4 linked regions of the Homo sapiens genome follow. The protein of the gene in region 3 interacts with the protein of the main gene of each other region in a pairwise test. Each region holds a gene or a part of one and is shown on either strand. Other genes may lie near its edges.

Evidence for each region.
Region 1: the proteins of RNASEH1 (region 3) and FAM3C interact in binary tests that used the Homo sapiens proteins (3 or more experiments, as listed by UniProt).
Region 2: the proteins of RNASEH1 (region 3) and ASPH interact in binary tests that used the Homo sapiens proteins (3 or more experiments, as listed by UniProt).
Region 4: the proteins of RNASEH1 (region 3) and NRM interact in binary tests that used the Homo sapiens proteins (3 or more experiments, as listed by UniProt).

The regions. Positions count from the first base shown.
Region 1 is NC_000007.14:121,365,305-121,372,331, reverse strand, and holds part of FAM3C (protein FAM3C precursor), read left to right. Parts: intron 1-192; coding exon 193-222; intron 223-908; coding exon 909-1,032; intron 1,033-7,027. UniProt on the Homo sapiens protein: May be involved in retinal laminar formation. Promotes epithelial to mesenchymal transition.
Region 2 is NC_000008.11:61,515,576-61,522,602, reverse strand, and holds part of ASPH (aspartyl/asparaginyl beta-hydroxylase), read left to right. Parts: intron 1-4,479; coding exon 4,480-4,571; intron 4,572-4,941; coding exon 4,942-5,075; intron 5,076-7,027.
Region 3 is NC_000002.12:3,548,324-3,555,350, reverse strand, and holds part of RNASEH1 (ribonuclease H1 isoform 1 precursor), read left to right. Parts: intron 1-3,042; coding exon 3,043-3,207; intron 3,208-4,878; coding exon 4,879-4,978; intron 4,979-6,238; coding exon 6,239-6,293; intron 6,294-6,626; coding exon 6,627-6,711; intron 6,712-7,027. UniProt on the Homo sapiens protein: Endonuclease that specifically degrades the RNA of RNA-DNA hybrids.
Region 4 is NC_000006.12:30,687,958-30,695,072, forward strand, and holds NRM (nurim), read right to left. Parts: upstream 3,028-7,115; 5' UTR 3,018-3,027; coding exon 2,885-3,017; intron 2,874-2,884; exon of another isoform or gene 2,387-2,873; intron 2,287-2,386; coding exon 2,090-2,286; coding exon of another isoform or gene 2,068-2,089; intron 1,514-2,067; coding exon of another isoform or gene 1,496-1,513; coding exon 1,319-1,495; intron 986-1,318; coding exon 704-985; 3' UTR 92-703; downstream 1-91.

The sequences.
Region 1 (7,027 bases), on a different chromosome or scaffold from region 3:
TAATTATTTAATAGTTTATAATGAATGTACAGTGTGAAGTTACTTTCTCACTTTTTCTTAAGTGATATTCATGTTTTATTGTATACTGAATCATTATTTGAACACTTATTTTTGTGGACCTAAATATATTTTAAAAGTGGATACTTGCCAATAGACTCATTCCTTCTAACAAAAGTAATTTTTTTTTTTCAGCAAGATCAGCATTGGACACAGCTGCACGTTGTAAGTATTTCATCTCAATATTTTATGTATGATTTATTCTGCCTTAGGCATATGAGAGCTTATATTCAAAGTGTCAGTAGTTCAGTATGAGGAAAAACTGCTTTAGAAATTGCTTTTTAAAGTTATGAGGATGCTATTTGATTGGACAGCCCAAATATTTTTGGCAATTATTCATGATGGATATTTTGTGTTTTTTAGCTCCGTTATTATAAGTACAGAAATTGGTGTGAGAAGGAGTTAAGAGTGTACATGGGCAAGGTAGTCAATGGAACATTAGGCCTTTTTTAATTATCCTGGAGGTGACGATTTTTTGTGCATATATGGACTAGAAGTGCAAAGTAACATTCAGAACCCCCCACATCCTAAAATTTAAAAATAAACTCATAGTTAGATAAAATATATTTGCCCTAATGCAGATCATATTACTTGACTCATTTGCATCCATTATTAGTTTGTTTCCTAGGAAGATCTGGTGTCTGTTGTGGGTTTCTTTGTTGCTGTTTTTTTTTAAAAAAATTTTTTGAGGTTCTTTGAAACCCTCAGGGGAACAAATTAGCTTGTATTTTAAGATACGTGTATCTTGATGTTTTTCTTAATGCTCTTTGTGGTTTGAGATTTGAAGTAAAGTGAGGTAAAGTCTGTTAACTTGTTTTCTAAAAAAAGACATCATGTTTTCTCCCCCAAAGCTACAAAGCCTCCCAGATATAAGTGTGGGATCTCAAAAGCTTGCCCTGAGAAGCATTTTGCTTTTAAAATGGCAAGTGGAGCAGCCAACGTGGTGGGACCCAAAATCTGCCTGGAAGATAATGTGTAAGTCTTTGTTGACTTGAGACGATAAGGTGTGCTATTAAATTGCAGCCAATTGAACCTGAGTTTAATGGATATTTTGAAAATGTGTTCGGTATACTTTATTAATGGAAAGTGATTTCCATTTTTGTTATGTAGTTTTTTTCTCATGAATTCAAGGGACCTTAAAGTTCTTAAATTTTATATTAGAGAGTGACTAAGAACGTAACACTTATTCGGCTTTATAGAGATAAGAGATTTCCTCTGAGTAAATTCTCTAGATCTGCACTGTCCCATTTGCTAGCAACAGAACACATGTGGCTATTTAATTTTGATCCTTAAATATTAGGAAGAAAGTTAATTCACTTAAATTAACTAAAAAGTTCAGTTCCTTGGTATCTGTCACCGCAGTTCAGGTGTTCAGTGGCCACATGTGGTTCATGGTCACCAAATGGAACAGCAGAGAGAGCATTTTCATCGTGGCAGAAATCCTATTTGCAACATTGCCCTGGACAATGAATGTGTTCTCTTTATTTTAAATGAAATCCAACGTCTTTCATTTAAAATATTTGAGTGCTACTTGTTGAAGTGTGAAATGATCCAGTGATAACCTCAGTTCCATTGCAGCACAAACTGCTTGCCTCTAAGCTGAATGGTTTCCTATGTTGAGATGCTTTCTAAAGGATGGTTTTTAGGATTTTTGATATCCTACCTCAGTGTCAACTGTTGCTCGCAAGTTCCTGCTGCTGAAATTGCAAATCCTACTTTTAGTTGGTTGCTTTTAATATGCTATTGCCTAGAAAACTAGACATGGGGGCTTATTTAAATTTAATATAAAATAATAAATTTGTCACGAATTATATAGAATAAAGAGATAATTTTATAGCAAAGAGGAGACCTAGGCAGCTTTTCCTAGCTGTTTATGTGCCTCTTCTTTTTAATATTGAAGCTCTTAAATTTTTATCCTAGCCTCTTTTGCAGGCAGTTAGCTGTAAGAAGTTTATTGAGCTTCATGGGACAACACTTTTCTTGTAAAATTAAGGGCTTGAGCTAGATGATCATTAAGGTCTGTACTGATTTCCTTTATTTTCCCGTATTCTAATGATGATTTATTGTTAATCCATTTGTCTTCTGATTTCTCATTAGAATAGTCCTGTTTTACTGATGCATAATAAGGCACTTGCATTTTAGAAGTTTGTAGGTTTTTGAAAACATTCTCATTTCCACTCTTTATCTTGTTTGGTTAAATAGACCCCAAATTTGATTCTAAATCACAGGAACAAAGTTCTTTTAGAATACCTAACCCATGGATGATTTTGGACATCTATTCTGCCCCCTTGATGCATGTGAATTTTAGTTCAGAGAAGAAGAGATCAGACTGTTTACTAGCAGGTTTTTTATTCACAGATTAAAACCGTAAACAACAAAACACACTCAGAAAAAAAGCTCAACTGTTTACCCACATCCTGACCCTTATTCACTTCTCTCCAGATCTTCCTGATCTTGGGGCCTTAGAGTATACTCTTCTGTCTAGGATGGTCTTTCCTCACTCTTCACTTGGCTGTCTTCCTTCTTGACCTTTGGTTCTCAGAGTACACATCACTGTCTTAGAAGCTGTTCTCTATCCCTCAGCCTAATGTTGAACAGCTAAAGATCTAAGGTCAGAAAGCGAACAGTGCATAGACAGTGGAGCTTGGTAAAATACATACTGGGCTTAGAGCCAGAGAATTTGCTTCTAGCATGGTGGGCGTGTCATGTAGCATTTGTGTTTCAGTTTCTTTAACCATTAAATGAGGCAGGCCACCTATCCATCCTTATTTCAGGAACCATTCTGCCATTACCATGAGAGATTAAATACTTGGTGGGATTTTATACCCAAGCCTCAGGTTAAAGTCCAAAGAAAGAGTCTTAAGTTTTCTGAGAGTCATTTATTCACCTGTTCAGCAAGTATTTTTGAGCATAATCCCTCCTGTCATGGAACTTACAGTTTAGTAGGGGTGACAGATGCTTAAAAAAAATACGTACTTATAAATTGTGACACCAGGCTGGGCGTGGTGGCTCATGCCTGTAATCCCAGCACTTTGGGAGGTCGAAGCGGGTGGATCACCTGAGGTCAGGAGTCTGAGACCAGCCTGGCCAACATGGTGAAACCCCGTCTTTACTAAAATACAAAAGTTAGCCGGGCGTGGTGGCACATGGGCCTGTAATCCTAGCTACTTGGGAGGCTGAGGCACGAGAATCTCTTGAACCCAGGAGATGGAGGTTGCAGTGGGCCAAGATCGCACCACTGCACTGCAGCCTGGGTGGGCGGCAGAGCGAGACTTTGTCTCAAAAAAAAAAAAAAAAAAAAACAACAACAACAACAAAAAATGAACAAACAAATTGTGATACCAGCCCTGCAGGGCAGCAGGGTGTGATGAGTACTGGCGAGAGTGGATGGAAAGAGGTGTCTAACTTTTAGATTGAGGGTTATGGAACAGTTTCTAAGACAGTGATGTGTATTCTGAGATCTGAGGGATAGAAAGGAAGACCATCCTTGGTCTTCGAGCAGGAGGAAGAAGCCTGCTCGAAGGCCCTAAGATTGGATAGCTCTGGAGAGAAGTGAATTAGGGCCAGGCTGCATAGGAACTTGTAGGCCACGCAGGTAAAGGGTTGAGACTTTTTTCTGAGTGTATTGAGAACTTGTGGAAGGATTTCAAATTCTGGCATGTCGTGATTTTATTTATATTGAAAAAAGTTATCTGGTTGCTGTGTAAAATAATTAAGGAAGTGGAATAGAGAGGACAATTGGAAGGCCATTGCCAGTTACTGCCACAGCACTTTCATACTGCCTCCCTGTTGGTAACAGACTTTATTGCTTATACATTCACTAAAATCTATAAGTAGATAATAAAAATAACACAAGCAGAGAATTTAGTCTTTTCACAGCACCTGCTCTGAGTACATGTAACTCACTTTGGAGACTACTAATCTTGGATCAGTGTGTCTCAATGGGGGCAGTTTTGCTTTCCAGGGAACATTGTAATTTTGGGTTGTCATAGCTTTGGAGGTACTCCTTGTAGAGGCCAGAGATGCTGTTAAACATCTTTCAGTGCATAGGTCAGCTCATCCACAAGAATTATCAGGCTCTTAAAATGAGAGGCTGGGTTTGAGAAACTCTGATACAGACAGGTGATAATTACAATTAGGATGGTGGTCATAAGTAGTTGAAGTCAAAATACATTATGCTGATAAAGATGTGTTTTAAATGTCTCATTAGTTAGAAAATCGCAGGTATGAACCTCAGGTCTCAGGAAAAACAGTAATTGCAGCTTTTTTTTTTCCTTTACTTTTTCTTTTTTCTTTTCTTTTTTACCTAGAGACAGGGTCTCATTCTGTTGCCCAGGCTGGAGTACAGTGACGCAATTTTAGGTCACTGCAACTTTGAATGCCTGGACTCAAGCGATCTTCCCACCTCCACCTCCTGAGTAGCTGGGACTACAGGCGCATACCACCACATGCAGCTAATTTTTCTATTTTTGTGGAAATGGGGTCCCATTGTGTTGCCCAAGGTGGTCTTGAAGTCTTGGGTTCAAGCAGTCTTCCCACCTCAGCCTCCCAAAGTGCTGGGATTACAGGTTTTTTCTTTCTCGTTAGAGCACCCATAGAACTAACTTATGTTCCAATTATAATTTTCATCTAAGGCATATATTCATTTGATTTCAATTTGTATGAATTTGATATTAGGAATAATTCATTACTTTTGATTTTAATGGTAATGTTTGCTGCAAGAATATGAGATTATTTTGAGGGATTTTTTTTTAACAAGGGATCAATGTTTTTGGCTATGAGGGCAAAGAGGTAAAATCAAGGTTATTATGTATGTACTTACATAATCATTTAAAATGTAACCATTTAAAAATGTAAAAACTATTCTAAGCTCATGAGTAGTAAAACAAATCAAAAAACCAGTTGGCAGGATTTGGCTCGTGAGCTATAGTTTGCCAAGCCCTGCTTTAAACTAACCATCTTAAGAGATAATAACTAATAACTAGGACATGAAGTAGCTATTTGAAACAAATCTATATTTGGATATATTGAGTATTTCTACAGATGATATAATCATTTCCTTTAGAATTTTGCCTAGAGATGTGGGAAGGGGTACCTTATATTCATGAAGGATAAAAGAAAATATTTCAACTTGTGTTAGTAAGGGTTACTAACCTTTATACATTTTAAATCTCAGTGGATTTTTTATTTGTTAGAGATTTTCTGTTTGAATTTCAGTTTTTAAAAATTGATAAGCTGCTGCCCTCTTGTGGGAAGCCTATGTCATTGTGCTTCTTTGTTACCTTTATTTCTTTGCTTTATGATAGATTTCAGTCTGTAAAATGCCACATCATACTCCTTGATGATCTTTACTTGGAAAAGTCACTCTGGCACTTAACCCGTTAATCACAGCAGTTACTTCTTAATGATGGAGTTTACTTATTGAATGTATTTCTGAAAGAAACAGAACAGTACATTTTGAAACTTCCTTCTCTTTGATGCAGCTGAGCCAATGGTTAAGTAGTAAAGCATAGAACCTTTTAAATGTATATGCTCCAAGCTAGTACTTTTAAACAGCTTTGAGATATAATTCACATGCCGTCCATTTTGCTCATTTATATTATACAGTCAGTGGTTTATTATATTCACAGATATATGCAATCTCTGCCACAGTCAATTTTAGAAAATTTTTATACCTCAAAAAGAAACCCTGTACCCCTTAGCTAATATCCTTCTATGCCTTTCTTGTCCTGCCCCACTTCCCCACCCCCAAACCCTAAGTTAACCATTAGTTTCCTTTCTGTCTTTATAGATTTGCCTATTTTGGACAGTTCATATAAGTGGTATATAATATTTGGTCTTTTGTGATTGGCTTCTTACCATAATGTTTTCAGGCTTCCTCCATGTTATATCATGTATCAGAACTTCATTCCTTTTATGTCTGAACGATATTCCATTGTATGGATATACCACATTTTGTTTACTCATTCATTAGTTGGTAGACATTTGAGTTGTTTCCACTTTTTAACTATAATGAGTAACATTTACAGAAACATTTATGTACACATTTTATGTGGACATATGTTTTGATTTCTTTATACTCCCAGGGAGTGGATTTTGTTTTAGGTGGTAACTCTGTTTAATTATTTGAGGAACTGCCAGATAGTTTTCCAAAGTGGCTGCATCTGTTTGCATTTCCGCCAGCAGTGTATGAAGGTTCCAATTTCTCCACATCCTTGCCAACACTTGTTATTATCTGACTTACTGATTATAGCCAGCCTAGTAGATGTGAAGTGAAATCTCATTTGCATTTCCCTGATGATTAGTGGTGTCTAGCATGTTTTTGTGTGCTTATTGGCCATTTGTATATCTTCTGTGGAGAAATGTCTGTTGAAACCCTTTGCCCATTGATAAATTGGGTTGTTTCTTTATAATTGAATTGTAATTTCTCTTTTGATTAATGTTTGCATGATATGTCTCTTTCTACCCTTTTACTTTCCACTGCCTATATAATTATATTTAAAGTGAGTTTCTTGTAGACAGTGTGTAGTTGGTTCCTGTTTTAATTCACTTTGCCAATTTCTGTCTTTATTTGGTATGTTGAAACTATTTTCATTTATTATAATTATTAATATATGAGGGTTTAAGTCTATTTTATTATTTGTTTTCATTTTCTCATTTTCCTGCCTTCCTATGAGTTACATAAACATTTTAAAAAAGTGTTTCTTTTGATTTATTTATAGTGTTTTTGAATGTATCTCCCTATAGCTTCTTTAGTGCTTTCTCTCTTTACACAAAAAGTTTGCAGACTCAAGTTCTAGACTTGAGGTGAGGGAGAAAATATTACACAGATTAAATTGAAAAATATGTCCTATCTATATCTATTATATGGTGGATAGCACCAAAAATGTAGGAAGTAGTCTTCCAATATTTAAAACTTATTATCTGATTCAGTCATCATTGACAGGCAAGTGGAATTTGAACATGAATC
Region 2 (7,027 bases), on a different chromosome or scaffold from region 3:
TCACTATCATGAGAACAGGATGGGGAAAACCACCCCCATGATTCAGTTATCTCCACCTGGTCCCTCCCATGACACATGGGGATTATGGGAACTATAATTCAAGATGAGATTTGGGTGGGGATGCAGCCAAACCATATCACTAGGGATGAGAAAATGACGTGTGAGGACACAAGAAGAAGGTGGCCACCTAGGAGCCAAGAAAAGAGGCCTCAGGAGAAACCAAGCCTGGCCACACCTTAATTTTGGACTTTCAGCCTCCAGAACTGTGAGAAAATACACTTCTGTTGTTTAAGCCACTCAGTCTGTGGTATTTGCTTGTGGCAGCCCTAGCGAACTGATACAGTATCCAAGTAGTTTCATTAGGACTGAACTATGTTTTTTTAAAGGACTGGCTTTTTAGAGTTGAAGGAAAAAACCAGAATCAGCAAATATAAATAATGATTTTGTTCCCCAAAAATAACTTTTTAAATTGTTATGTGAATATTATGGAACGTCTATTTTGCTCTTATCTTAATAAGTGCCACCAACAGTGATTAAAATATGCCACACATGTGCAGTCATTTTTTTCTTCCAGAGCCCATGGGAAAGGTGCTAACTGACCCCAACAGCCTTTCTGAATAAGCTGAGGCTGAACCTCTAAGTCCTTCTCAACGCAGTGTTCTAGGTGGCTGCTAGCAACTGATCAGAATTGTCATGCAAGATGGAACCTGTTGTTGCCCCAGAAGCAGAGCCTTGAAATTTATAAAAGATACAACCCAGGATATCAGTTCCATGAATAGCCCTCACAAAGTATATTCATGTGTAAGAAGTGATAAATTTAAATGATTCTTCCAGATTTGCATTGGCTGTTAGATCTCTTTCTAGAGCTATTTTCCCAAAGAAGCAAGGTTTATTACTTCTTGAGGGTTAGTTTAACGCTGGTGAGAAATAATCAAACGACAACAAAGCCACAGTGAGTTGCAGATGCTGGGCATTCCTCTTCAGGCTGAGTTAACTGGTTTGCTCCTGCACAGCTGCCTTCTAACTTACAATGCAACAAAATGAGAAATTATGCTTTAAAGCATAGGCTTTGGAAACCAACAATCCTAGGTTAGAGTCCTGGATGCACCGCTTGTTAGCTGTGTGATGTGTGCATGTCCCTGAATCTCTGAGCTTCAAATCCCTCATCTGAAAAATGGCAAATAGTGCCTCAAGTATGGGGTTGTTACTAGGATCAGTGAGCACTAGATGAAAGACTTGGCACAGTTATCCAATATATGATAGTAATATTATATTTTTATGGTCTAACAATAGCACATGATGTAATAACAGTAGTGGAGAGGTGGTCTCTGGTCTGGTTAAGAGCATGAACACTGGGTCCAGTCTGGCTGAATTGAAATTCCTGCTCTGCTGTTCGCTATGTGACCCCTCTGTGGCTCAATTGCCTTTCTATAAAATACAACACTAATTGAGCCTTCTTATGACATGTTGTAGACATCAAATGAGGCACTCTCATCATGCAGAGTGGTTCCTGGCCTGTCGTGAGCATCAAGGAACTGCCGTTGCATTCCTTGGACCCTCATGATCAGACGTGAAGAGTTAAAATGACCAGTGACAGTGCATGAATGCCCAGAGTCTACTGCACAGAGAATCTGGGTTTACAGACCAGAAAGATAAATGTGTCTAAAGAGCTAGAGGTGTTCTCTAATTCCTTGAAAATCTCAGGGACACAACCCATTTGGTTACCCATTCATCACCTGTCATTCAGGTAAGGCACATCTGTTCTCCAGGTAGCACATGCTCAGCCACCTGGTGCTTGTGAGAACTCCAGGCCACCTATGGTTGTTCCCCAAGCCACCAGTTTCACTTAACTGCTGCCTGGACAGCACAGAGCTCAGAATTGGGGACTCCTGCCAAGCAGCCCCAGGCCCTGCATACCAGAAGACTTGGAAAGCCCAGGCTCAAAAACACTTTACGGTGACTCGTAGGTTTATGTAATATTCACCCAAACTGACATTTATTGTTCATTTGGGGAACTCCATTAATAACTAAAAATAGCAATTAACATTTTATTCAATTAAGAGCCAAAAAGGTTACTTAGAAAAAGCTAAGTTGTTTTCTAAAACATTGAGCTCCATTTGATTGGGGTGAATACCTTTTAGTTGCGTTTTTTGTAACTCTTATTTTATTCTCAGTATGTGATTATCTTAGGACACAATTAACATTAATTAAATAAAATTAAACTCAGCTTTAGATGTAGCAGTCTCTTTTAGGAATCTTGAATAGGGAATTAAAATGTCTCTGACTTTTAAAAATCCCATTGTTTTACTCCCCCGTTAGAGCAGATGACATTGTGTACATTCTGAGCACATCTTCCCTAATAAGCAGGGGCTTTATAGAGTGTAAAGAAATTTGCATAGTTCAGGATACTTAAATGACATGTCCCAGAATCTGTGCTCTTGACAGTTAATCATAGAATATGTCCCCTCTCAAAGACGCCTTCTTCATTTAAATCCTATTCTTTATCATCATATAAAGGATGATCTGGATATGGAAAAGACATTGAAGTCCAATAAAAATAGTGTTTTGGCAACTAATATAGTCCTAGAAATGCATTTCTAAGTTAGAAATATAATATAAGCTATTTTCCTTCTTTAGGGGATGTATTAGTTTCCTGTGGCTGGTGTAACAAATTACCACAAAACTTAATAGCTTAAAACACAGACACATTTATTATCTTATAGTTCTAGAGGTCAGAAGTCTACAATAGATCACACTGAGCTAAAATACAAGTGTCACCAGGGCTGTATTCCCTCTGGAGTCTCCAGCTTCTAGAGGCTGCCCACATTCCCCGGCTTGTGGCCCCCTTCCATCTTCAGAGCCAGCAGTGGCCAGTCAAGTCTTTCTCATACTGTATCACTCTGACACTTACTCATCTGCCTCCTCCCACATTTAAGGATGCTGTGATTACCTTGGGCCCATCCAGGTAATCTTGGATAATCTCCCTATTTTAATGTGAGCTGATAAGAAATCTCAGTGCCACTTACAGCCTTAATTCCCTCTTGCATGAAAGACAACATATTCACAGGTTATGGGATGAGGGTATGGACATCTTTTGGGAGCTAACTATTATTTTTCCTGTCACAGGGGAAAAAATAAGTACAGTTGGCCTTTGAACAACGTGAATTTGAATGTTATGGGTCCGCTTATGTAAGAATTTTTGTCAATATATTGGAAATTTTTTTGAGATTTGTGGCAATCTGAAAAAAATTTGCAGATGAACCTTATAGCCTGGAAATATTTTTTAAAATTAAGAAAAATTAGGTATGTCATGAATGCATGAAATATATATAGGTACTAATCTATTGTATCATTTACTATATATATACAAATCTATTATAAAGAAATAAAATTTATCAACATATGCATGGAAGCACTTACAGACCATACATAGCACCATTCATAGTCAAGAGAAATGTAAACAAACATGAAGATGCAGTGTTAAATCATAACTCCATTAAATTAACTGTAGTACAGATTATACTACTGTAATAATTTCATAGCTGCTTCCTGTTGCTATTCGGCAAGCTCAAGTGTTTTCAGTATCTGCTTAAAATACCATGTGATACTGTCGTCTCCATGTGAGCAGTTCCTCTCTCTGGTAAATTGCATATCACGGTGAAAAGTGGTCTCTTATGGTTCTTGTGTATTTTTCCTTGTGTTTAATGCAATGCTGCAAACCTCGAATAACACCATGGGACCTATACAAAGAGCAACTAATGATGATGGACACGCTGCCAAGAAGCAGAGAAAAGTCATGACCCTACAAGAAAAAGTTGAATTGATTGATATGTACTGTAGATTAAGGTCTGTACCTGTAGTTGCAGGCCATTTCAGACATTCAATTCATCTTGTAAACAGATGATGTAAACTTATGGTATCGATAAAATACCGTACAGTACTGTAAAAGTATTTTCTCTTCCTTATTATTTTCTTAATACCATTTTCTTTTTTTCAGCTTACTTTAGTGTAAGACTATAGTATAGAATACATATAACATACAAAATATGTTAATCAACTATTTATGATATAGGGTAAGGCTTCCAGTCAACAGTAGGCTATTAGTTGTTAAGTTTTTGGGGAGTCAAAACTTAACATGCATGGAGGATCGAAGCCCCTAATCCCTGTGTTATTCAAGGTCAAAGGCCTTTAACCTGTGTCTTGTCTGTTAGACATTCTTAGTCAAATAGTCCAACACCGAGTGAAGAATTTGGATCCCTGCTCTGCCAGTCACTACCTATTGGAGCAAGACACGTCTTCTTTATTGATAAATTTTTATTTATTTCCAATAAGCCTTTTGCATTCCTACTTCATCTTCTCATGTTTACTCAATCTTCTCATTCCTGCAGTGAGGATGACATATAGCTCTCACCTCATCTAAATGGGATAAGTTTAAGCTTTACTGTGATTTGTTTCCAACAATTATGTTATTTATTCTAGGAAGAAGAAATGAAAATGCCTGCAAAGGAGCTCCTAAAACCTGTACCTTACTAGAAAAGTTCCCCGAGACAACAGGATGCAGAAGAGGACAGGTACCAAGAGTGTCGTGCTGGGGAGAATACAATTAATTGTTAGGAATAAGGGCGTGTTGACCTTTACAAAGAAATGGTTGTTTCCTTTGGCCCAATGAATGCCTCTTTTTACATGCCCTTTTTACTGAAACATAATTTTATGTGGTTGACGTCAGAATTGAGGGTGGAAAATGTTCAGTGTTTATAGCTTTGTGGAAAATGTGAGTGCTTATTTTTAGTTCCTTCACAAAGAAATAAGACTTGAATATAAATATTAAATCTTACAAAGGCTCTAATCCAAACTGACAGTAATTTTGTACTGTCACCTTAACTTAGCAGTTCCTCCACACCTTGATAAATGGCTGAATGGAGTGTCATGTTTTCTATGCAGATCAAATATTCCATCATGCACCCCGGGACTCACGTGTGGCCGCACACAGGGCCCACAAACTGCAGGCTCCGAATGCACCTGGGCTTGGTGATTCCCAAGGAAGGCTGCAAGATTCGATGTGCCAACGAGACCAAGTATGGGTCCTCTGTTATCCGTCATATCCGTCACCTCAGAGGATGAGAGTTTGTTACAACACAGTTGTGTTCCTTTGGATTACTTATCTTCTTTTGTAGCTGAAGTAGACTGGAGCAAAGTGATATTAATCCAAACTCTTAAGTCTATATCCCTTCTTGGTGCTTTCTATTAGCCTGGAGACATTGCCCAGCTCTAGGGCTGCCCTCCTCCATTATTTCTCGGCAGAGTACTTATCTAGTTGAGGAGCTGCCTTGTTTCTCTCTCTGGGTAGACAGATGTGCATTCAGAGTCAGCCAACATGCATTGAGCCCTGCAGATGTTATGCATTGTGCTTCCTGCTTTGCAACTTGACTTATTCATGACTACAAGAAGTACCCCTAACTGAAGAACTCACCCCATGATATTTATACGTTTTGATATAGAGGAGATGGTATGGTGCAATGGAAGCTGGCTGCCTTTTTCAAATCCCAGCTCTAACACCTAACCTGTGTAACCTTGGCTAGTTACTTAATCCCTTCAAACATCAGCCTTCTTGCTTATAAAATTGGCAGTGATAACATCTACTTTGCAGGGTTGTTGTATGGATTAACTGGAATAATGCCTATAAGGTGCTCAGTCCATGTTCTGGTATCAGTCGGGACGTGATGAATGTTAGATCTCCTCTCCCTCCCTTGCGTGTTACTTTCCTAATCCTGACATGTTTATTCATGATCTTTTGAACAAACCATACTTGCTCTGGCTTCTGTACCTATGATGCTGATAATCTCTGTCCCTAGAATGCCCGTCTTTTCACCTGTCCAAAATAAACCTATTACTAAGATCCAATTTAGTTTTATAAAAATAGAACCTCTCAGAGTATATATCCTCAGTAATCCCATTCCTATCTTCTATTACTCTTTATTCATTAATATATATTACCCTTATCTCCATAGCAAGCTGTATGTAAGCTCCTGGAGATCAGAAAGCAAGTTATTGTTGTCTTACACATTTCTTATTGTTCTTAGTAGAGGTCTGAGTGGAGGATGAGTGTTCAGGGGTCTGCAGAATTGTCTATTTGATTATTGGCAGATAACTGCCCTGGGCAGCCCATGGTGCTGTGGGAAATTCAGAGATGACTCAGAAGGGGCCGTCCTCTTCTGAGGACACCTAGCAAGGTGTGTCTGCTCAGGAAGATAACACAAGATTGAAGGCCACCGTGGTCATAGAAGAGGTACTACAGATGGCCTCTCTACAGATAAGCTAAAAATACTACAGATGGCTCCATGAGCAGGAGCCTCACCTGCTCACAGACACTCAACTTGCAGAGTGGTGGTTTTTAAAGACAAGAAGGATTCGGACATTGAAAGCTAAAGAGGGGTATTCTGGAACAGTATCCATTAAAGGCACAGAGGCCAAAAATTATGGCCACATATGAAGAATATTGAATAATAATTCAGCAGCCAGCAGTGTATGGTACATAAAGAATAAGGTTGCAAAGTGAAAGAGTCTTTTAGAAACTAAATCATAGGAGGCTTTGAATCCCAAACTAATGGGATCAGACCTTTGTTAGGAAGTTACTGTGGAACCCATGGGTGAATCCTATGGGGACAGTGGGAAGAACAATTAGCAGGCTGTCACAGCAGCCCACCCAAAAGATAAACAGAGCTGGAATTGGGATGCTGGAAAGAAATGGAGACTAGAGAGCAGATGCAAGAGGTGACTCTTGAATGTGTGATACAGGAATGGGGCATCCAAGATGCTGCTGCAATTGCAGTCTTTGGACAGTGGAGGGTGGCGATGCTTGAGCAAACCTTGGGAATTTGGGAGGCATGAGGCAAGTTCAAGGAAAGGAAGATGAATTTAGTGCTTATGTATTTTATTTAGTTGCTATTGGAACACACTTGTAGAACCATCCAGGAGGTGGCTGGAAATAGAGACCTGGCACTCAGGGGAGAAGGTAAGTCTAGAGATA
Region 3 (7,027 bases):
AGCCAATAAGCTGAGAGACAAGGTGTTGGGGCAAGGAAGGCGACTTTTTTCCGAGAGCCAGCAAGTCAAGAAGATGGTGGACTAGTGTCCTGAAGAACCATCTTAAGTTAATAGAACTTGAGACTTCTTTTATGTTAAGGGAAGGGGAAAGAAAGGCGGAGGTGAGATCAGGAGGAGACCGATGAGCACAGACATCTGGATGGCAGCGAGGGTCCAAGGGGATTGTGAAACTTCTCTGTCCTTGGTCAGGCCATGATGCTCCTCCTATAAGTCTTCAACATAACATTGTTATTTGTGTGTACTCCCTCTTTATCTCCTTGGGGGTTAGTTTTGGGAACGGACCACTGTCATCCTTGCTTTAAACTATAAATTCTTCCCATAGTTCACTCGGCCTATACGATACCACTATGGGGATGTTAAGGGAGAATGGAGGCAGTAATGCTGAGCCGCCTCCTCGCTGTTACAGCTGTTCATTTTTCTACCCAGATGGAAAAATCAGTTTGAGACAGAAAGCAGGTTTGAAAATATGGCTTTTTCCTTCTTTGCTGGGTTCCTGATACTTCCTTTTCTTAATTTTCCTTTTCAGTTTTCCTTTTCACAAATTTTTTGTTTTTAACCAATCAGTAATTTATTTGTATCTCAAGTCTTCCAATATAAGTATGTTTCTGTTTTTATTAAGTACTCTGACTCTTAAAGCAAGCTAGTTCTTTTGAATCTACTTCTTTAAACTTTAGAGACCTCCTAGTCAGTGACTTACGTCTATAAATTGAGATTTAGTGCCTTTAATGATTCAGATCTGTATCAAAAAGTCTTAGCCCCTTTTACAGTTTTTTGTTTTTTAACATTACATTTATCCTTATTTTAGAATTATTGAGCTATTTACTGGTTCTTATGGTTTATATAAGCTGATTTAAGGTTAATTTACTTAAAAACCACAATTTTGTGAAGTAAAACTTAACTGACAAGTGTGTTTTTTTCCTCCAAGTCTTATCTGTTCTGTAAAGTGTCCATCTCTGTTATAGTAAGTAAAACCAGTGTTTATATCCGTGTTAAGGTTCTACAAAATGACACTTTAACCTGGACCACAGTATCTGCATTTACTTCAGTAGAGTACCTAGAGGAACGTTTTGGAGATGAGTGTGTGAAAACAAAATGTGGCAGTGGAAACGCCAGCTGTTGCTGACGTCGTGCTGATCACAGTCAAGTGTTGCCCGGCGCCCTTAGGGTTCCGAGAGGTGTGGGTTGAGAAGCTCCACTAGGCTGGACATTTTCTTGTTCCTTTCTAGTAGGCGTTCTGTGATGTTCGTGCCCCATTTCTCCATCCCTGGTTTAGGAGTTGAGAGCTGGAGGTGAATCCTGTAGTGTTGGGTTAGGGTTGTTAGTTTGCAGGTAGTTGGTTGCTCCTGTGTCCTTATTTTCACTCCATGTAAGGAAAAGTCGTTTGAGATCATCTAGCCCAGGGCCTCGTTTTACAGAAGCCCAGAGGGTTTAATTCAGTTGACGGAGTTCGCAGCTGATAAAAGGTATAGCACAAATTGAAACTGGTTTTTTGAGTCCTGGTCTAATTTAGCTGTTCTACTTCAGCTGCCATAGTATTACCCAGTGAGTGAGATATGGGCCCTTCCCAGATAACCCTGAGGTGGTATTAAGAATCTCTTTGGGGCCGGGCGCAGCGGCTCACGCCTGTAATCCCAGCACTGTGGGAGGTCAGGGCAGTGGATCACAAGGTCAGGAGTTCAAGACCAGCCTGGCCAAAATGGTGAAACCCCCATCTCTACTAAAAATACAAAAAAATTAGCTGGGTGTGGTGGTGGGTGCCTGTAATCCCAGCTACTTGGGAGGCTGTGGCAGAGAACTGCTTGAACCAGGGAGGTGGAAGTTGCAGTGAGCCACGATCGCGCCACTGTACTCCAGCTTGGGCACAGAGCAAGACTCTGTCTCAAAAAAAAAAAACTATTTGGGATTAACCTTGAGGTCCCCCTGAAGAAAAACTTCGTTGCAGAAGAAAAACTTTGTTGCAAAAGAAAAGCTGCAAGAGTACTGACCCTGAAGGGACCCAGTTGCTTCCTTTTAGTTTCTGGTTTCTGTTTCCTTTTTTTTTTTGAGACAGAGTCTCACTCTCTCGCCCAGGCTGGAGTGCAGTGGCGCGATCTCCGCTCACTGTAAGCTCCACCTCCTGGGTTCACACCATTCTCCTGCCTCAGCCTCCTGAGTAGCTGGGATTACAGGTGCCCGCCATCACGCCTGGCTAATTTTTGTATTTTTAGTAGAGACAGGGTTTCACCATGTTGACCAGGCTGGTCTTGAACTCCTGAGCTCAAATGATCTGCCCGCCTCGGCTTCCCAGCCCTGTTTTCCTTTCTTAATATGTCCCATTATCTGTTTATTCAAGCTAGATGAACCTGCACCCTCTGAGCCCTCCTAGGGGTTCTTAACTTCGTGTCCATGTAGTTGTATTTGAGGCAGGGAGAGGCTGAACCATGGACACAACTCATCTTTTTTTAGATTTATCTATTTTTAAGCAAAGGGGTCTCACTATGTTGGCCGGGTTGGATTCAAACCCGGGCTCAAGCGATACTCGTATGTCAGCCTCCCGAGTAGCTGGAACTATAGGCACACACCACTGCGCCCAGCAACACCACTGATGTTATATACACAATTTTGGGCCATGTTTTTCCTGGAGAAAGAGCCCCTTGAGATGCTGTGGAGGGGATTGAGATGCTGTGGAGGGGGTGGAGGTGGTGTGGAGGGGAGGGGGTGGTGGTGGTGTGGAGGGGAGGGGGTGGTGGTGGTGTGGAGGGGAGGGGGTGGAGGTGGTGTGGAGGGGGTGGAGGTGGTGTGGAGGGGGTGGAGATGGCGTGGAGGGGGTGGAGATGGCGTGGAGGGGGTCATTCCCTCGTTTCCCTCGTTGTAGGGCCACATAGAGAGGGTGTTTTTAAGTCTGATTTAATGATACTAAATAATTTACTGAATGTCTTCATTCTCTAGCATTTCGTGTTATGTTCATTGTTTCCAGCTCACGAGTGGACTCTTGTCTTTCAGGGCATGAAAATCAACATGGACAAGAATCGGAGGCGAAAGCCAGCAAGCGACTCCGTGAGCCACTGGATGGAGATGGACATGAAAGCGCAGAGCCGTATGCAAAGCACATGAAGCCGAGCGTGGAGCCGGCGCCTCCAGTTAGCAGAGACACGTTTTCCTACATGGGTACATCTTCCTTGGGTTTTCAGATTTTAATACCACAGTCAGGAAAATGTTATGTGTAAAAGGTGTTTCCCACTTGATGGGGGGAGTTTGAGCTGGTGTTTATCATCTTCATTCTTATGTGTAAAGATTATTTAGAAATCACTAAGGCCATTATTTATAATCAAGTAGTGCAGAATTAAACTTTTGGATGTTCTTAGGAAAACCCTTACATGTAAATGAACAACTGTAATCTTTTGAAATACTAGTATTCCCTGTGCATGCAGTACTTAACGTTAAGATGAAATGCGAAGACTCCAGCTTTTTCAAATAACACCTCACACGCAGCTGCTTGTTATAATTGATTAGCACCAGCATTTTAACCTTTCATATTCAATCTTTGGAAAACAAGAGATTCTATTTTATCCTGAGAAGCAAGGTAGTAGTGAACTTTTCTGCTACCTTTCACTCCAGGAATCAGTTATGTATTTAGTGACTCACAGAATAGAATTCTCCTTTGTGTCTTTTACACATATGAGCAGAAAGTAGAAATAAGCATTAAAAAATATAAATCAGTATATTTATAGGTTCTAATTTAATTCAAGGGAAACCAGTAGAAAATGTTTTGCCAAGCTGTATTATTTATAGATATGTTTTGCAGTTACGTAAAAAAAGATCAAACAAGTATTCTTTATTTGGTGATTTACTAGTAGGAATTGAAGCAAAGATTTGTGGAGTTGCAGGGAGATGAGCCGTTTCCAGACACTGACCATTGCTGGAGGCTTGGTGGCCTGGAACATGGCGGATAGCAGGTGCTGGCTCCTGAGACAGTTCAGTGGCTGGGTGGGAAGCTTGTAGTCATGCTGATACAGTTAAGTTCCAGCTGAACGGAGGAGCCCTGCCCAACACCCACACTCCCCTTGGCTCTCAGCCCCGCTCCTGTGAGGAGCACATCCCCATCTTTGCCCCTTCGCCACTGCTGAGCTCAGTCTGCCGTCCTTCGGACAAGTACTTCCACTTCCTGCGCGTACCACCTCTATTTGCCCTCTCGCCCAGCTCTTTTAACACTGTGCAACCTGACCTCTGATCCCACCACACTACTGAAGTGTCCTGGTCACCAGTGGCCTGAGAATGCCCCCGTCAGTCCTTTTTTACCTTGTTCTTTACAGCCTTTGTGTGTCAATCATACCCTCTATCTAGAGGGAAAGAAGCAAAGACGGGAACCACACTTAACTAGCAGCAAATATGCCAGGGAAGAAATTAGACCAGCACTGGTCAGGAGACTGGGCCCTCTGGCAGGCAGGGTCACCGTCATGCTGAGGCGCTGCTCGTCTCTGGAGGATGGCTCCCTGGGAGTGAAGGTGACCCTGCCGTGGAGACAGCGCCATTGTCCTCTGAACCCACAGTGTGGGATGTGAACAGTAGTTTTTACTGCAGCAGGCTCTAGTTTTACAAGGTGATTGCCTTCACCCCGAACTTGCCTGGCCTGCAAGATCAAAATGTAAGTGGATTCCAAGCATAAATGTTAGGTGCCCCCTTGTAAGGAATGGAGCATGTTTTCCTAGAGAGAAAACGTCTGCAGCGTTGTAAAATACCCTCTCGGTTTAAAATGCTAAGTCGACCTAGTGGATTTTTGAGGTGAATTTCAGTTTTTAGTAAGGTCAGCCCAGCAGCATGTACTTCCTTTTCCCACAGGAGACTTCGTCGTCGTCTACACTGATGGCTGCTGCTCCAGTAATGGGCGTAGAAGGCCGCGAGCAGGAATCGGCGTTTACTGGGGGCCAGGCCATCCTTTGTAAGTTAAACGAAGCTGAGTTTTACTGAATCATGTTCCACAACTTGTGAAAAGATGAGGCGGGATCTGCTCATTGTTTGATTATTGGGAAAACCTGCAGATAAGTAGCTCTGGCAGGGGTGGCAGAGGAGCAGCTTTGGTTCGTGTTGGGGCTAAGCGGCATTGCTTTTCAGAACGTGAGGTACCTCAGCTTTACTTCCTTTGCTTTTTTTTTTTTTTTTTTTTTTTTTAAGACACGGTCTCACACTGTTGCCCAGGATGGAGTACAGTGGCACAAACACAGCTCACTGCAGACTTCACCTTCTGGGCTCAAGCGATCCTCCCACCTTGGCCTCCCAAACTGTTGGGATTATGGGTGTGAGCCACTGCACCTGGCTTTGGTGTTTCTTTCTTGCCCTGGGGAGGAGTCTTTTTTTTTTTTTTTCCTGAGACGGAGTCTCACTCTATCGCCCAGGCTAGAGTGCAGTGGCGCGATCTCGGCTCACTGCAAGCTCCACTTCCCAGGTTCACGCCATTCTCCTTCCTCACCCTCCCGAGTAGCTGGGACTACAGGCACCTGCCACCAGGCCCAGCTAATTTTTTGTATTTTTAGTAGAGACGGGGTTTCACCGTGTTAGCCAGGATGGTCTCGATCTTCTGACCTCGTGATCCGCCCACCTCGGCCTCCCAAGAGGAGTCCTTTTTTCAGTAGAGATGAAGTCTCACTATGTTGCCCAGGCTGGGCTCAAATTTCTGGGCTCATGCGATCCTCCCACCTTGTCCTCCCAAAGTGCCGAGATCACAGGTGTGAGCCACCACCCCTGGCCCAAAAATTGCTCATTCTTTTAGGAAACTCTGGATCTCCTGGTGACCCCAAATTTTAAATAACTTGTCTAAGGGTTTTTCTGGTTCCTTGATTTCATTTTCCTCTTTTACTTCCTGGAGGTTTTTAGTAGTTTCAATCTGAAGTCTCACTCTCTCCATTCTTCTTCCCGAGTTTTCTCCTGGGATTCTTTCTGCTGCAGCCATAGGGCCTAACCCAGGGTCCGCAGAGAACCAGCTTTTACTTCCTTTGCCCTAGTGGAACCCATGAGAGTCAGAAGGTGCCCAAGTGTGGAAACCTGTGTGCTGCTCTCTGCTGGGAGTCTGTTAGTTTGATTTTTATATGATGCTTTTATATTTCAAATAAGAATACACACTAGTTTATCGTTATCCATTAAGAAGAATCACTTTGAGAATTCACTTTATACTTTTATTTTCTTTTGTACTGTTTTGAAACAGAAATGTAGGCATTAGACTTCCTGGGCGGCAGACAAACCAAAGAGCGGAAATTCATGTAAGTTATCAGATACGTTTAAGCCTCTCTTTTTTGAGCATTGAGTATGAAATTATCAAATAAACTAATTCTTTTTTTTTCTACCTATACATATAAGATATTTGAAGAGAGACGGGTTTAATAACAATTTTGAAAAATAGGAATTTTGTAGAAAAATTCTAAAAACTTATTTCAAATAGATGTCTACACAGGAGAATTGTATGTATAGTAGTGTTTCATACAGAGAATATAATCAGTACAGAGGGGATGTTTCAATTTCGAAGTACTTTTGAACTTTAGTAATGTCAGAGTTGAACATTTTCTGTAGCATGACTATCGACTTGTCTTTTCAAGGCAGCCTGCAAAGCCATTGAACAAGCAAAGACTCAAAACATCAATAAACTGGTTCTGTATACAGACAGTATGTTTACGATAAATGGTAAGCTTTCACATTTGATTTCTTCTGTTTTTCCAGTAACTGTGAAGGGAAATTGGTAGGAGGTGTTGTAACAGGGCAGGACCCAAATGGGAACGGGGGGATGACATTGGTTTGTCAGGTACCGAGCAAAGAGTGAGGATTTTGGAGTCTCCCTTCTGCTGCTCTGATGTTTTCCACATGCTTATTTCTTTGCCAGGCACTGGAGATGCAGTCAGAAGTGGAAGTGGCTCTTACTTCTAGTCTGTGTGTGTATAAGTCACTTAAGATGGCGTGTTGACTGCTTCTTTGGGAAATGCCCTGAATAGGAGCATGTAGG
Region 4 (7,115 bases), on a different chromosome or scaffold from region 3:
GACTCCAGTTCGGTGCTCCCAGGCTCCCTCTGGCTTTCTTTCCCAAACTCAGCCCTGTAGCTTGGGAGACACTGACAGACTGCATGCCATATGTAGAAAAAGGCTGACTTTTATTTTCCTGCAGAGCATCTTCCTCGGGAGAGCAGGGAGCCCCAAGTCATCGAGTTAAGAGCAGGAGAATCCCCTTGACTAGGTTGGGGTCTGAGCCCAGAGGCAGGGCCTAAGGAGGTGCAGAGACTAGGGCCGGGAGTGGTGAGGCAAGGTTGGGGCCTGGAGGGACAGCTATGACCGTTGAACTTGCAGACCCTGGTCCACCTTCTTGGAGTGGAAGCCAGCGGTGCAGAAGGGGACCCCTGAGGCGCAGAGGCAAGTAACAGTGCCAGGGGAGTGGTCAGGGCAGATCCTTTCCTTCTCAGGAGGCTGTTGAGGGGGAGAGTGTCATGCTCTAAACAGTGAAGGGACAGATGACTTCCATACCCCACTCTTCCTTGCTGGTGAGAAGTGGACCTTGGAGTTCAGTGGCTGAAACTCAGAATTTAGGGTATGGAGCTGGACCCAGAGAATAAAGTCTCAAGTAGTAGAAGGGGCATCTCCTTCAGTCCATGGATTTGGGCCTCTGGCATGAAGCAGCCAGGGCCTGGATGTTAAGGATTTAGAATTCAGTGGGAGAGGAAGAACAGGGCTTGTAACCAGAGTGAGCTCCTCACTCTGCCTCCCCATCCTGGGGCCGAGAGAGCAGGTGGAGTTTTCTTTGTAGCTGGGCCCGGAGGTAGCGGAGGTCTTGCTGATCAAGCCCGTGAGCCAGGCCCAGGTAGAGGGTAAGGAGGAAAGCAAGGAGGAGACGGTCCGTGCCCAGGGTAGGCACCACCCACAGCACTGTCAGCAGCTCCACACACACTGGGTGGCGCAGGTGGGAGAAGAGTCTGAGAGCCCGGGGAGACTTCAGGGCCAGAGGCTCGCCCAGCCCCAGCACATGGTAGTATACCTAAGAGAGGGAGAAGAGCTTAGAAATGGAGTCAAGCCCTTTTCTCATCTTGGGCACTTCTTTCCTCCTCTTCCAGGCACCACCCTTCTAGAACTCAGGCCCAGGAACCCCCCTTCTGAGACTTGGATCCCTGATCCTGACTTCTGATCCATGTACCTTCCCCAGGCCCAGGAGGCCCATGCTTGCTGCCCTTACGAGGGAAAGTCAAAGGGAAGGGCCACGAGGGAGAAGCAGGGAGACAGTAGAAGAGCATGGGAGGAGGGAAACCCTTGAAAGGGAACGAGGAGTTCTAAAATGGGTCAGAGGTCATAGGTAGGGATCTCGGAGCCTCACCTGTTTGAGGCCCATGAGCTCAGCATAGTCAAAGACGAGAAGGATGCTAAAGATGAGGAGCCAGGAGATGACATGGAGCACAAAGCAGAGGAGCGGCACCCAGGTGGCCCATGGCTCAGCCCGAGCCTCCCACAACACAGGGCCTTTGGGTATGGGCTCCCAGTACCGCATCACCAGCTGTGGAAGGATAAGGGGCTGGGTATCCCAGTGGCCTAGTCTGCCCGACCTTGGGAGACCCAGACCCAGATCTGCCCCCACCACAGGCTAGCCTGCAACTCTCCCCCACCTCTCTCCTAAGCATCACCACCAAATATTCACCATGTGGAGGGTGCGTGCTGGGTGAGGTCCCAAAGATGTAAGGATGGCCTGTCTCTACCCTGAGAACTTATAGAATAGATGGGGTGACCTGATAGCTACGCAAAGTAGTAGCCTGTGCCAACCACCCAGTGAAAAGACAGACAAGGCCTTCTCTTCAGACCTAGGGAAGTGGTTTTGAAGAAAGGGTAGGACTGAAGAGAAGGGATCTCAAGCAGGACATAAACAAAGTTGCAGAGGTGAGAAGCATATCTTGTGCTTAGGGAAGGACAAGTACACCCTTCTTGATAAAAAGTAGGATATGTGCTGTGGAGGAATGGAAGCTGAGATTAGTTCCTCAATTCTCCTCCTGAACCCATATTTTGCCCCTCCAATCCACGGCACCCCTCCCACACTTGGTCTCCCTTGGGGACTCAACTGCCAGGATTTCATACCTGCAAGGCCAGGGCCTCATACCTGCAAGGCCAGGGCAGTGCAGGCCACATACAGTGACCTCTGAAGGACCCCAAAGTACCGGGATGTCCATGCCTTCACTCTTTCAGCTGCCATGAGGCTGTGCTGCCCAACAAATAGAAGCAGGAGCCCCAGATCCCATGCCAGGGGGGCAAGGATGCTGCGGTCCTGCAGGGCAGCCAGCCATCCCTGGCGGGCATCTACAGGAAGTTGAGGGAAAAAGAGACAAAAGATCGAAACAGTGGCAGAATGTTTCCCCCACCCTCATCTCCTCTTGGATCCCCAGGCCATGTCCCTTACTGCTTTCAAGAGCCTTAATGCTTCCTCTCTAGGCTGTGCCCATCTCACTTTTCCATCCCTAGTTTCTGCCCTCTTCCCTAGGCCTCCTGCAAACCTGGGGAAGAGGATTTATAGAACACCACATGTTAGGCAGTTGCAAAAAGCATGGCTGGAGAGGCCACGCTGGATTGCCCCTCTTACTTCGGTTCTCCAAATGCTCCTTCTTTTTAACACTCTCCTCTCAACAGTCCTCTCTACAAAACACTTTACTTAGAATACTCCGGTCACCGCCCTTTTCGGCTCCCTCAGTCCTCACTCTCCCGCCTCTCCAAAACTCTAATCCTTGAGTTCCTAATTTAGAACTCAGGTCTCCCTCCCCTGTAGCTTCTCGGCCGCTTTCAAGGTTCGAGTTCCCTCTCTTGGACTTCCCCTGTCATTTGTTTCCAAGCCCCGCCCTCAATCCCTCTCCTACGGCTCCACCTTCCTCCTCCCAGTTCATCCTCGATCCCTCCCGCTCACCCGGACCACCAGACTCCGGGATCCCTCCAAGAAGTGGCCGAAGGGAGGTAAAGCGCACGAACTCCACTCCGGTGCCAAAGGCCAGGATGAAAGAGGCGAGGGCAGCAGGGATCAGGAGCAGTGCAGGGGCCATGGCGAGAAATGGAGGGGTGGGGAAAGGGGCGGGGTCGGGATTCCCGCTGCCACAGGCCCCGCCCGCGGCCCCGCCCCCGGCTGAATCCAGCCCAGGAGGGCGGGGCTCCTGCACGCCACCGCCAGGCTTCCGGCCCGCCTGGCGCAGCCTTCCCCATCCAGCTGTGGATCCGTCCTGGGATGCGTGTCCCGGCCTGCTGTCTCTCCGTCACAGAAGGGAATGTTAGAATCCCGAGAGAGAGCTGTTAAGGGTAGCGGCTCTGCAGCCGCTCACGTGGGTTGAATCTCAGCTCGTCTAGTTTTCCCATCTAAAATGAAAAGTTACTGTTTTACCACAAAATAAATTAATGTATGGAATACATTGTACAGAATACAATATACAGAATAAATTCTGTAACTTACTATAAAGTTGAGTTGTTGACTGGCCAGTTGCTAAGAATGGCAAATAACTTCTCTGTAAATACTGAAAGGTTTGTTGTAATAGTGCCAGAGATTGTTGATTAGTAACCACGAGAATAAACATGTTAAAATATTTGTGATAGTAACCTTTGTCAGAATTAAAGATCATGCAGCTAAGGACCTTGTCACAGTAGACGTACACATAGTAGGGACCTTAGATATCATTAGACTAATTCCATCAACTTATAGATAGAAGAAACAGGTCCAGAGAGATAATTGCCTGAGTTAGGAAGCTGCTAATCCTGTAGGCTAAGGGACCAGATAATTGCTGAGCAGCCTCTCGCAGGCTTTACATTCCTTCTCCGTCTCCTGGGCTCAGTACTCCCACCCTCCTCTGAATCAATGCTGTTGTATGCTGTACCAGACATCTTATGTTTTCCCTTGAATTCAGTCTCCACCCTGCTTTCTGCTTCAGTAAGTTGTCCCAAATGGACGGTATCAATGAAAGTCACAGTTTTTATTGAGAAAGTCCTCTCGCCGGGCGCGGTGGCTCACGCCTGTAATCCCAGCAGTTTGGGAGGCCGAGGCGGGTGGATCACGAGGTCAGGAGATCGAGACCACGGTGAAACCCCGTCTCTACTAAAAATACAAAAAAAATTAGCCGGGCGCGGTGGCGGGCGCTTGTAGTCACAGCTGCTCAGGAGGCTGAGGCAGAAGAATGGCGTGAACCCGGGAGGCAGAGCTTGCAGTGAGCCGAGATCGCGCCACTGCACTCCAGCCTGGGCGACAGAGCAAGACTCCATCTCAAAAAAAAAAAAAAAAAAAAAGAAAAGAAAAAAAAAAAAAGAAAGTCCTCTCTACACGACTGCTCTGTCCTCATCTTTTTGAGCTTGGAGGTGATCACAACAGAGCTGTGGGTACTAAGGCACTGCACTATTCTTTCTGATTTCCCTACACCCTGCCTACTTCTTTGTAATTATCACTTTATTAAACTCTCCCCCAAATTATCCTAATTTCACTGTGCTATTCATTTCCTGCTAGGACCATGAATAGAGACACTTACCACACAAAGCAATGTGCTACAAGCTATGGGGTTCATTGGAAGTGTAAGAGGCCAGACTCGGTGGCTCACGCCTGTAATCCCAGCAATTCGGGAGGCTGAGGTGGGTGGATCACTTTAGACCAGAAGCTGGAGACCAGAATGGCCAACGTGGTGAAACCCCATTTCTACTAAAAAATTTTAAAAATTAGCTGGGTGTGGTGGTATGCGCCTGTAATCCCAGCTACTTGGGAGGCTGAGGCAGGAGAATCCACTGGGTGATGGAGCAAGATTCTGTCTCAAACAAAAAAATAAATAAATAAAATACAAGGAAGTGTAAGAAAAGATCCCTAATCTCTAGATGTTTAACCTGAGGCATTTAAATAGTACCACTCATGAAGAGGGAGTGTAGCTGAGTGCTACATGGTGCTCTACAGACAGCAGGTATGGTAAGAAATCAAGGTCTCTGGCTGGGCGCAGTGGCTCACAGCTGTAATCCCAGCACTTGGGAGGCCGAGGCAGTTGGATCATCTGAGGTCAGGAGTTTGAGACCAGCCTGGCCAACATGGTGAAACCTCGTCTCCACTTAAAAGACAAAAATTAGCCAGGTGTGGTGGCAGGAGCCTGTAATCCCAGCTTCTCGGGAGGCTGAGGCAGGAGAATCGCTTGAACCCGGGAGGTGGAGGTTGCGATAAGCTGAGATCTCGCCACTGGACTCCAGCCTGGGTGACAGAGTGAGACTCCGTCTCAAAAAAAAAAAAAAAGGAGCTGGGCGCGGTGGCTCATGCCTGTTATCCCAGCACTATGGGAGGCCTAGGTGGGTGGATCACGAGGTCAGGGGTTAGAGACCAGCCTGACCAACATGGCGAAACCCCGTCTCTACTAAAAATACAAAAATTAGCCGGGTGTGGTGGCACACACCTGTAGTCCCAACTACTTGGGAGGCTGAGGCAGGAGAATTGCTTGAACCTGGGAGGCGGAGGTTGCAGTAAGCCGAGATCGCGCCACTGCACTCCAGCCTGGGCAACAGAACAAGACTCCATCTCAACAACAACAACAAAAAAAAAAGGAGCCGGGTGCAGTGGCTCACGCCTGTAATCCCAGCACTTTGCGAGGCCAAGGTGGGTGGATCACCTGAGGTCGGGAGTTCGAGACCAGCCTGACCAACATGGAGAAACCCTGTCTCTACCAAAAATACAAAATTAGCTGGGCGTGGTGGTGCATGCCTGTAATCCCAGCTACTCAGAAAGCTGAGGCAGGAGAATCACTTGAACCCGAGAGGCGGAGGCTGCAGTGAGCCGAGATCACGCCATTGAACCCAGCCTGGGCAACAAGAGTGAAACTCTGTCTCAAAAAAAAAAAAAAAAAAATGGAAAGAAAGAAATCAGGGCCTCCGGGACATGGACAATTTTAGAGTATGAAAGCTTTGAGTTGTGCAAGGGGACTAATATTTATCTGGGTCATACTGTCTGCCACCCCCACAATGGCTGTGCTTAATGTATATTATGAGATTAGATATGTTTAATAGCCAGCAAAATGCTTGGCAAATCTCATGCTATTTCTACTACACCAAAGTTTTCCAAACTTAAGTATTACTTACATGCAGAAAAGTGTACATAAGTAATCAACTATTTTTTAAAAATTGAAATTCATGCAACATAAAATTAACCTTTTTTTTTTTTTGAGTTGCGGTCCAGGCTGGAGTGCAGTGGTATGATCACAGCTCACTGCAACCTCGAACTTCTGGGCAAATGGTCCTCTTGCCTCAGCCTCCTGAGTAGTTGGGACTACAGGCATGCGCCACCACATTCAGCTAACTTTTTATTTTTTGTAGTGATGGGGTCTCACTATGATACCCAGGTTGGTCTCAAACTCCTTGGCTCAAGTGATCCTGCTGCCTTAGCCTCCCAGGGTGCCACCATGCCTTGCCTAACCACTTTATTGTATTTATTTATTTATTTATTTTTGAGACAGAGTTTCGCTCTTATTGCCCAGGCTGGAGTGCAATGGCGCGATCTTGGCTCACTGCAACCTCCGCCTCTTGGGTTCATGTGATTCTCCTGCCTCAGCCTCCCAAGTAGCTGGGATTACAGGCGCCCACCACCACATCTGGCCAATTTTTGTATTTTTAATAGAGATAGGGTTTCACCATGTTGGCCAGGCTAGTCTCAATCAAACTCCTGACCTCAGGTGATCCACCCACCTTGGCCTCCCACAGTGCTGGGATTACAGGCGTGAGCCACCACACCCGGCCTAGCCTAACCACTTTAAAGAGAATAATATAATGGTATTTAGTACATTAGTATATTAGTAATAGGTACAACCACCACCTCTATCTAATTTCAAAACATTTTTTTTTTGAGATGGAGCTTTGCTCTTATTGCCCATGCTGGAGTGCAATGGCTGATCTCCGCTCACTGCAACCTCTGCCACCCAGGTTCAAGCAATTCTCCTGCTCAGCCTCCCAAGTAGCTGGGATTACAGGCATGTGCCACCACGCCTGGCTAATTTTGTATTTTTAGTAGTGACAGGGTTTCACCATGTTGGTCCAGCTAGTCTCGAACTCCTGACCTCAAGTGATCCACCTGCCCCAGCCTCCCAAAGTGCTGGGATTACAGGCATGAGCCACCACGCTGGGCCTTCAAAACATTTTCATCACCC